Linked DNA regions of Homo sapiens. The protein of the gene in region 2 purifies or fractionates together with the protein of the main gene of each other region. This does not show direct contact. Each region holds a gene or a part of one and is shown on either strand. Other genes may lie near its edges. The genes, in order: MYH11 and ZFAND5.

What was found.
Region 1: the proteins of ZFAND5 (region 2) and MYH11 purify together in Homo sapiens (affinity purification with mass spectrometry; one large-scale study listed by BioGRID and IntAct). This does not show direct contact.

The regions. Positions count from the first base shown.
Region 1 is NC_000016.10:15,846,987-15,850,801, forward strand, and holds part of MYH11 (myosin-11), read right to left. Parts: intron 1-3,815. UniProt on the Homo sapiens protein: Muscle contraction.
Region 2 is NC_000009.12:72,350,792-72,355,402, forward strand, and holds the end of ZFAND5 (AN1-type zinc finger protein 5), read right to left. Parts: 3' UTR 622-4,611; downstream 1-621. UniProt on the Homo sapiens protein: Involved in protein degradation via the ubiquitin-proteasome system. May act by anchoring ubiquitinated proteins to the proteasome. Plays a role in ubiquitin-mediated protein degradation during muscle atrophy.

The DNA.
Region 1 (3,815 bases), on a different chromosome or scaffold from region 2:
CTGCACACTTTTTTGCACATCAAGCGTACTTTTTTGGTTGTAAAGTACACTTCATTTTCCTTCCCTCTTATCTTTAATTGTGGTAAAATACAGCTAACATTCACCACCTCGGCCACTTAAACACAGTTCAGTAGCATTAAGTATATTGATATTCTTGTGCAATAATGAAGAGTTTGTGCAGATGGTAGCCAATTACATCCCAAGAGGGCTAGGAGAGTGTTTCATTTGTTCTAAGCACTATGACAAGTAAAGTGGACTTCTTTTTTTTTTTTTTTTTTTTCTGAGACAGGGTCTTGCTCTGTCGCCCAGGCTGGAGTGCAGTGGCATGACCTCAGCTCACGGCAACCTCCGCCTCCCAGGCTCAAGTGATCCTCCCACCCCAGCCTCCCAAATAGTTGGGACCACAGGCACCTGCCACCATGCCCAGCTATTTTCCTGTATTCTTTGTAGAGACGGGGTTTCACCATGTTGTCCAGGCTGAGGTCTTGAACTCCTGACCTCAAGTGATCTGCCTGCCTCGGTCTCCCAAAGTGCTGGGATTACAGGCATGAGCCGCTGTGCCCAGCCCTAAGTGGGCTCTTCCTAATTGCCATGTGGATGAGTTGCCTTAAAAGTCAGAAAAAATAGCAAAAGCTACAACAGAAAAATAAAAGGACACGCACGCCTCCATTGCCTGGGACCCTGTCTAACCTCAGACTTAAAAACACAAACAAGATCAAGTGCAAAGATTCAGTCTCTGTACAAAAAAGGAGAGCTTGGAGCAGGCTGGATTCCCTCTGGCTTTGATGTCTCTGACAGTTACGACGTGCAAAATCTGCTTTGGTCAAAAGACAGCAAGATGGGGGATGAGAAGCTTCGACTCATGCTAGAATGGTGTTTTCCATAGCATGCCCCTTGGAACCCTAATTCCCTGAAATATCTGGGCTGGGGTGGAGCTGCGGAGGTTGAGAAGCTCTTCAAACAGTGGCGCAGTCAAGGTCAAATCCATCTGGAAGGTGCTACATATTCCCCTTTCCCTCATTGAGACACAAAACACACAACAGGACACTTGAGTCTCTGGCAGATCCGGAAACCTGAAAGCTGTTTTGCTCCTACGAGCCTTGGGTCCCCAAAACAACATTTAGCCACAGATTTGCCAAATGTTTTGAGAATGTTTTCCTAAAAATTTGCCAAATTTTTGAGAAAATTCAGTGAGCCTGACAAATTAATAATACTAATACTAGTAATAATAGTTGCTAAGTCTTTTTTTTTTTTTTTTTTTTTTGACACAGAGTCTCGCTCTGTTACCCAGGCTGGAGTGCAGTGACGCAATCTCAGCTCACTGCAACCTCCACGTTTCTGGGTTCAAGTGATTCTCGTGCCTCAGCCTCCCAAGTAGCTGGGACTACAGGCATGCGCTACCATGCCTGGCTAATTTTTGTATTTTTAGTAGAGATGAGGTTTCACCATATTGGCCAGGCTGGTCTTGAACTCCAGGCCTCAAGCAATCCTCCCACCTTGGCCCCCCAAAGTGCTGGGATTACAGGCGTGAGCCACCGCAGCTGGCCACAAACTCTGCACTGTGACTCTTGGGCTGCGTCATTCTGTGTCGTGAGGGGAGCTCTTCCGTGCATTGTGGGATGTTCCGCAGCATCCCTGGTCTCTGCCCACCTGATGCCAGTAGCACCCCTTCCTCCACTCATGACAATCAAAAATGTCTCCAGACACTGCTAGATGTCCCCTGGGGTGGCAAAACTGCTTCCAGTTGAGAACCACAGCTTTAGAATAAAAACAAGGGCTGTCTTGGGAAAGGCAGTTAAAGCTGAGAGCAGCTCTCACTTAGTCAAACTCAACTCGGAATACCAACTGCAGAAGATCAGACGGGGGCAAGGTGAACACACTGGACCAGAGACGGACCGCCAGTTGGCCCAACCCCAGGGACACTCTTCATCTACCTTGATGCACCTTCCCAACCCTCCCTCCTCCACCATCGCTCATGTTTAAGGTCCTGCATCAGCTCCAAGGGCTGAAAGGACATCTCTGAAATTACTACCCAGAACTGCTGACCACGAAGTACAGTTCACTCATCAAGAGCTGCTCTCAATGTTTTTGGTTGGGGGAAGGGTCTCACTATATGCCCAGGGTGGAGTGCAGTGGTGCAATCATAGCTTACTGCAGGCTCAAACTCATGGGCTCAAGGGATCCTCCCACCTCAGGTGTGGGCCACTATGCCCGGCTTATTTTTTGTAGAGATGGGGGTCTTGCTATTTTGCCTAGGCTGGTCTCAAACTCCTGATCTCAAATGATCCTCCTGCCTTGGCTTCCCAAAGCTCTAGGATGACAGGCGTGAGTCACCTCGTCCAACTTTCTCGAATGTTTGGATGAAAACAAATGACTCTGTCACCTTTGGCATTAGCGATGTTTGACACATCTGAGTGTGTCAGCCTTGTTTACAGTCCTGTCCTGACCAACAACTGCTTCATTCTTTTTTTTTGAGACAGGGTCTGGCTCTGTTGCCCAGGCTAGAGTGAAGTGGCGCGATCTCTGCTTTCTGCAAACTCTGCCTCCCAGGCTCAAGCCATTCTCCCACCTCAGCCTCCCAAGTAGCTGGGATCACAGGCACGCACCAGAACACCCAGCTAATTTTTTAATTCTTGCATTTTTTTGTAGAGACAGGGGTCTCACTTTGTGGCCCAGGCTGGTCTCAAACTCCTGAGCTCAAGCGATCTGCCTGCCTCAGCCTCCCAAAGTGCTAGGATTACAAGCATGAGCCACCGCGCCCAGGCTGCTTCATTTTTTGAGCACAAACAAGCTAATCATTAGCCTCTGGAAGACCTTAGGATGTCAAGTAACGAGTCTCAGCTTTGCCCCAAACCTGCTGGGTGACTCTGGACAAGTCACTTGCCCTCTCTGGGCCTTGTATTTTTCATTTAGGGAAAATAAATCAATGGTAGGCTGGCCCAGCTCTACCATTTTATGGGACCCGTCTGTGACTCCCAGTCAAAGGGCTGAAACTGGACCAACTGAGAATGTCAGGTTGCTTTAGTTTGTTTTACCATCAGTTTCATTTTTCCCAGAAGAACTCAGGGGCAAAAGATCTTGCCCTCTCTGCTTCAGCATTAATAAAAAGTAAATTAGGCCGGGCATGGTGGCTGATGCCTGTAATCCCAGTACTTCGGGAGGCCGAGGCAGGCGGATAACCTGAGGTCAGTAGTTCAAGACCAGCCTGGCCAACATGGTGAAACCCCGTCTCTACTAAAAATACAAAAAATAGCCAGGTGTGGTGGTGGGCGCCTGTAATACCAGCTACTCAGGAGGCTGAGGAAGGAGAATCGCTTGAACCCAGGAGGTGGAGGGTGCAGTGAGCTGAGATCCCATCACTGCACTCCAGCCTGGGCGACAAGAGCAAAACTCTGTCTTGAAAATAAATAAATAAATAGTAAATTAAATATCCCAGAGCCCAGAGAGTATAGGATTTGCACATCACCTCACCTGGTCAACAGCTTCCCTCAGGATTTTACTGCCAAGCCATTGGCTAAAGATTTTGGACCAGAGACAAAAACCCAAATGTTTTTGGAGATCAGGTAAGTAATACAGAGTGACCCAGACCAGATGTTAGAGTATTGCTTATATTCTAAATACCATGCAGGGTTCAGCACTGTGGCTCACGTCTGTAATCCCAACACTGGGAGGCCAAGGCAGGCAGTTCGCTTGAGCTTAGGAGTTTGACACCAGCCTGCGCAACATGGTGAAACCCCATCTCTACAGAAAATACAAAAATTAGCCAGGCATGGCAGCACATGCCGGTAGTCCCAGCTACTCGGGAGGCTGAGGTG
Region 2 (4,611 bases):
CTTGAGGTTCTATAATAGTAGACAAATACCACACAACAGAAAATCTAAATCGTATTTGTCAACTGGTATTGTAGTTGCATGTATGAATACATTTTTAGTGATGGGAAGGGACAAGAGGGCAGAAGCATATTACATAGCAAGGACCAGCCAACATTTTTAATTTATCCTGGATTATATTCACAAGATCAGTCTGAAAAATTTACCCAGACACAAGTATTTAAGATGAGGTCATTAGGCTAATTTATTTGTATTTTTTTTCCTGGCTGATGCCTGAGCTCTACAAGGTAAGTGCTTAATGTTATTTTGTTAATAGTTCTTGCACTTATCTAAAATTTAAGAATGTGTAACAAGGATTTCCTGTTAACTTCTGAGTTGACTGAAAAATTACCCCAATTCCTGAGCAGCTTTGGTTACATTATCAATATATACAGGCTGAGGTCCTGTGGTGTCAATAAAAATCATCATAAAAAATGTATTCAACACAGATTAGCCAACTAGAAAATAATCTGTAACTTCTTTCATCTTGCTCTTAACTACTTAAGTATCCTTAGCAACATCCCTACCCATAATAAAAGGAAAGTGGCACTTAGCAGTTGCAGACAAAATGGAGTCTTACATTTATGGCACAAAACAAAACAAAAAAAGTCTTACATTTATTAACTTTACTTCTATGGCTGTAACAGAAATACTCTGGAAGAAAACACAGAAACAGTCTTTGCTTTTATATAAATTTAAAACCAGCACTTGTGCATAGAAATAGCTATAAAATATTAAATGGCACTTTTGTATTCTGTTGTACTTTTTTTTTTTTTTTTACATTTGCTACACGGTATTTATTCAATGACTGTATATTTAGTCACCACCTCAACCACTGCTAAGCTCTCTTCATGTCTATCTGTACCAGTTTCCCATCTTAGACTGTGATGTCAACTGGCAAGGGCTGGCTGTTGGCCGATTCACCATGACTGACATGGTGCATGTTCACTTGTTTTTAAAGCAGATTGTACAAACAGGAGAAACAAACAGGGGAAACTGTATTTCCAGTTTCTTTTTGTTAACAGCCTGTTGCCTCACCCATGCAAACTCTTCTAGCTAGTTTAAGGCTACATAATCTTATTGCTAATCAACCAGCAACCATACCTATCACTCTCCAAAATTATAAGTTAATACTTATGGACAAAAACCACTATTGAGAACTTTGCATTCAAACAGACAAGAGTCGGCCAGGCGCAGTGGCTCACACCTGTAATCCCAGCATTTTGGGAGGCCGGGGTGGGCGGATCATGAGGTCAGGAGATCGAGACCACCCTGGCTAACACGGTGAAACCCTCTCTCTACTAAAAATACAAAAAAACCCAAAAAACAAAAAACATTAGCCAGGTGTGGTGACGGGTGCCTGTAGTCCCAACTACTCCGGAGGCTGAGCCAGGAGAATGGCGTGAACCCGGGAGGCGGAACTTGCAGTGAGCTGAGACCATGCCATTTTACTCCAGCCTGGGCGACGGAGCCTCTGTCTCAAACAAACAAAACAAAACAAAAACAGACAAGAGTCAAATCAAGTCTTTGTACATATTCAAATATTTACATGTGGAAAAGATTAAATAACCTTTCTAAATTATGAGTTACCTAAAATGTATGTGTGCCTTTGAAATGGAGGATATGGGACAGCTTGAGAGGCTTTGCTTCTCAGTGTGTATTGATAAATCCATGTGAATGTTATTACCAACCCCCAAAATACAATAATAGTATGCTTAACATCTTGCTATTATTAGATTATTTCCCCAATTTTAGTTATTTCCTAGCAACTTTATTTAATGCAGATCTCTTGCAAAGAAAGCCTTACGGAAAAGAATGATTCTAATGACTTTAAACTGCAAGTTTAAATAACAAATCTTTATCTTTTCACTATACAACTTGATGTAACCAATCCTGTTCTCAAAGTTTTCTTCCCAAGTTATGGAAACCATTATTCCAGAACATTAAGACAATAGCAAATACAATGTGCCAGGCACAGTTTTAAGTGTTGTCACCTTCACACTCCTGAAGGTGGTTGCTGTCTTCATTTAAGAGATGAAGCAGTCCAAAGTGGACCTAAAATAACTTGCCCAAAATCACGGGCTGGTTCCAGGGTCCCTCATCTTAATCACTATGCCATAATGCTCAGAAACAGCTTTCCCTCACAAACTAATTTTCCCCACGTTGTGGGAAGCCTACCTAGGATCAAACCTGAGGCTCTAGTTTTACAGATCAGGCACACTGAAGATGAGGTTTTCAAAAAGGACTCACCCATTTATACTGCGAATTCATGTGGTCACAGCCTAACAAAACTTCAGGTCATGGGGGTGTAAATATTTGTCTGCTTATGTAAGGGAAACATGGTATATTATTAAATTGCTTAATATCTGTACATTTCAAAGGACTTCATGGCCTTGCATTCAGGTTTGAATGCAAGAATTTGGGTAGAACTGAGTCCTCTCAGGTGCCTTACACACTGATTCCCTTTCTCCCCAGTCAATGGACAACCCTGACAAATCTTTGTTCTGATCTGGTTTAATGTTTCTTGTAAAACAAACAAACAAAAAAAAAACAAAAAAAACTGATTGGCCGGGTGCGGTGCCTCACGCCTGTAATCCCAGCACTTTGGGAGGCCGAGGCGGGCAGCTCACCTGAGGTCAGGAGTTCAAGACCAGCCTGACCAACATGGAGAAACTGTCTCTATTAAAAATACAAAAATTAGCTGGGCGTGGTGGCTGGTGCCTGTGATCCCAGCTACTTAGGAGGCAGAGGCAGGAGAATCACTTGAACCCAGGAGGCAGAGGTTGCAGTGAGCCAAGATTACGCCATTGCACTGCAGCCTGGCCAAACAAAAATCTATCTCTTGCTACTACTCAGACCTTCAGAGTGATGGAGTCCGAGGGCTCATCTTACCTTCTCTATACCACTCTTACTTCCATTTTTAACTTGAAAAATTAAGTTGCCCTTCTAAATCTTCAACTTCTAAATTTTCAACTCAATTGTGACTTTTCATATTCAGAGAAATACTACCCTATGTCAGTATAGGAACTTTGACATACATATGTACCTCCCTAACTTGAAGCAAAAGTAGCAGCATGCAAAGAACTGACAGATAAAACTAGGGTATTTCCACCCCAAACTCCATCACAGAGAAGCAACAGTTGCACTCTGGTAATCATTTACCCCAGGTAAAGTCAACATGTACCTGTCACCCCTTGTTCTTTATGATCTGGCATAAACGCTACAGAGACCAAGTCCATGGGTGAATCTCTGTATTAGAGCCAAACCCAAAACAGAAATAAAACAGAACTCTTTTTGTAAACTAAGTCATACCTACTTTCTTCTTCAGAATTGTCATAAAACATCATCTTTTACAACATGGAGAAGCGAGGTAGGCCATAATTGTTCAAATTTCATCTTTCTCAAATTTTAAAATTGTTTTAATCCCAAAGGTGCCTATTGAATTCTTCAAAAATAAACTGCCTATCAGGTATCATACCTGCAAATGCTTCTAATATCTCTTGATTATCACTTGAACAAGTTCAGCGATGGCAAAGGAAAAAAAATTATATAGCCATGTAAAGTAACATTTTCTAATTTTCCCCCTTTAGGACTCCAACTATGGCTTAAAAACCCAATGAACAAGTGAAGTTTCCCTCTGTACATGGCTTTTATTATTTACATAATACAATATAGCATCAATGCTGAATAGCATGATTATGTGCAATACATAAATATGAACTATCTGTACACATCTGCAGGTCTAACTCAGAACTAAGGTACATAAAATTGAAAGCAAAACTGAATGCTTTAAGAATAAAAGTAAAAACTAGGACTGAACATTGCAATAAATCAGAAGTAGTGCCTCGTGTACATACTTAACTATTTACAGATGAAAACAGGCATTACCACAACACTAACTATACTCATTTATATATAAAAAACACAAGTTTCATACATCACAAAAAACCTTCCATTATAACACAGAAGTGATTATTACCAGACAAGCATCAGTGAAGTATACTGCCTTTTCTAGTTGTTATTGTACAATGCTGTAGATAATGCAGCCCATGCAATACACCCAAGAACACTAGAGTCCTACACCCAAGTACAATATGATAAAGCAGCCCTCTGCAAGTGGTGCTGGATACCACTAAGAAGTCTACTGCAGCCATGTTGGTTATGATTTTCCATGCAGAAGGGTACAGTTACATTAAGAACTGAAGTCTTTTAAAAAGCTTTAAACATTCTTTCTTGAACCAAAACATTCGACAAAAGATGCACATGAAAAATTATTCAGATACCTTTGCAACTTAAAATTCAGATGCATGTTATTCAATAGAGCTGCTGTATGTGAAAACCAAACGTAGAGTTTAAATTTCTTCTTGTAAACAAATTAATCCTAGTGCAGTTCTGTGCTACACATTTTTAGCAATGAGTAATGCAGACATCTTCTGGTGCAGGCCAGTACAATAAGCTTCAAAGGTTATCTCAAGACCCTGTTGTTGGCTTGATGGTTTTACTTATAACCAGTTTCGATGTTTACCTTTCACAGAATGTCTTATTTGACAGCTTTAGATGACCAATTTAACCAGG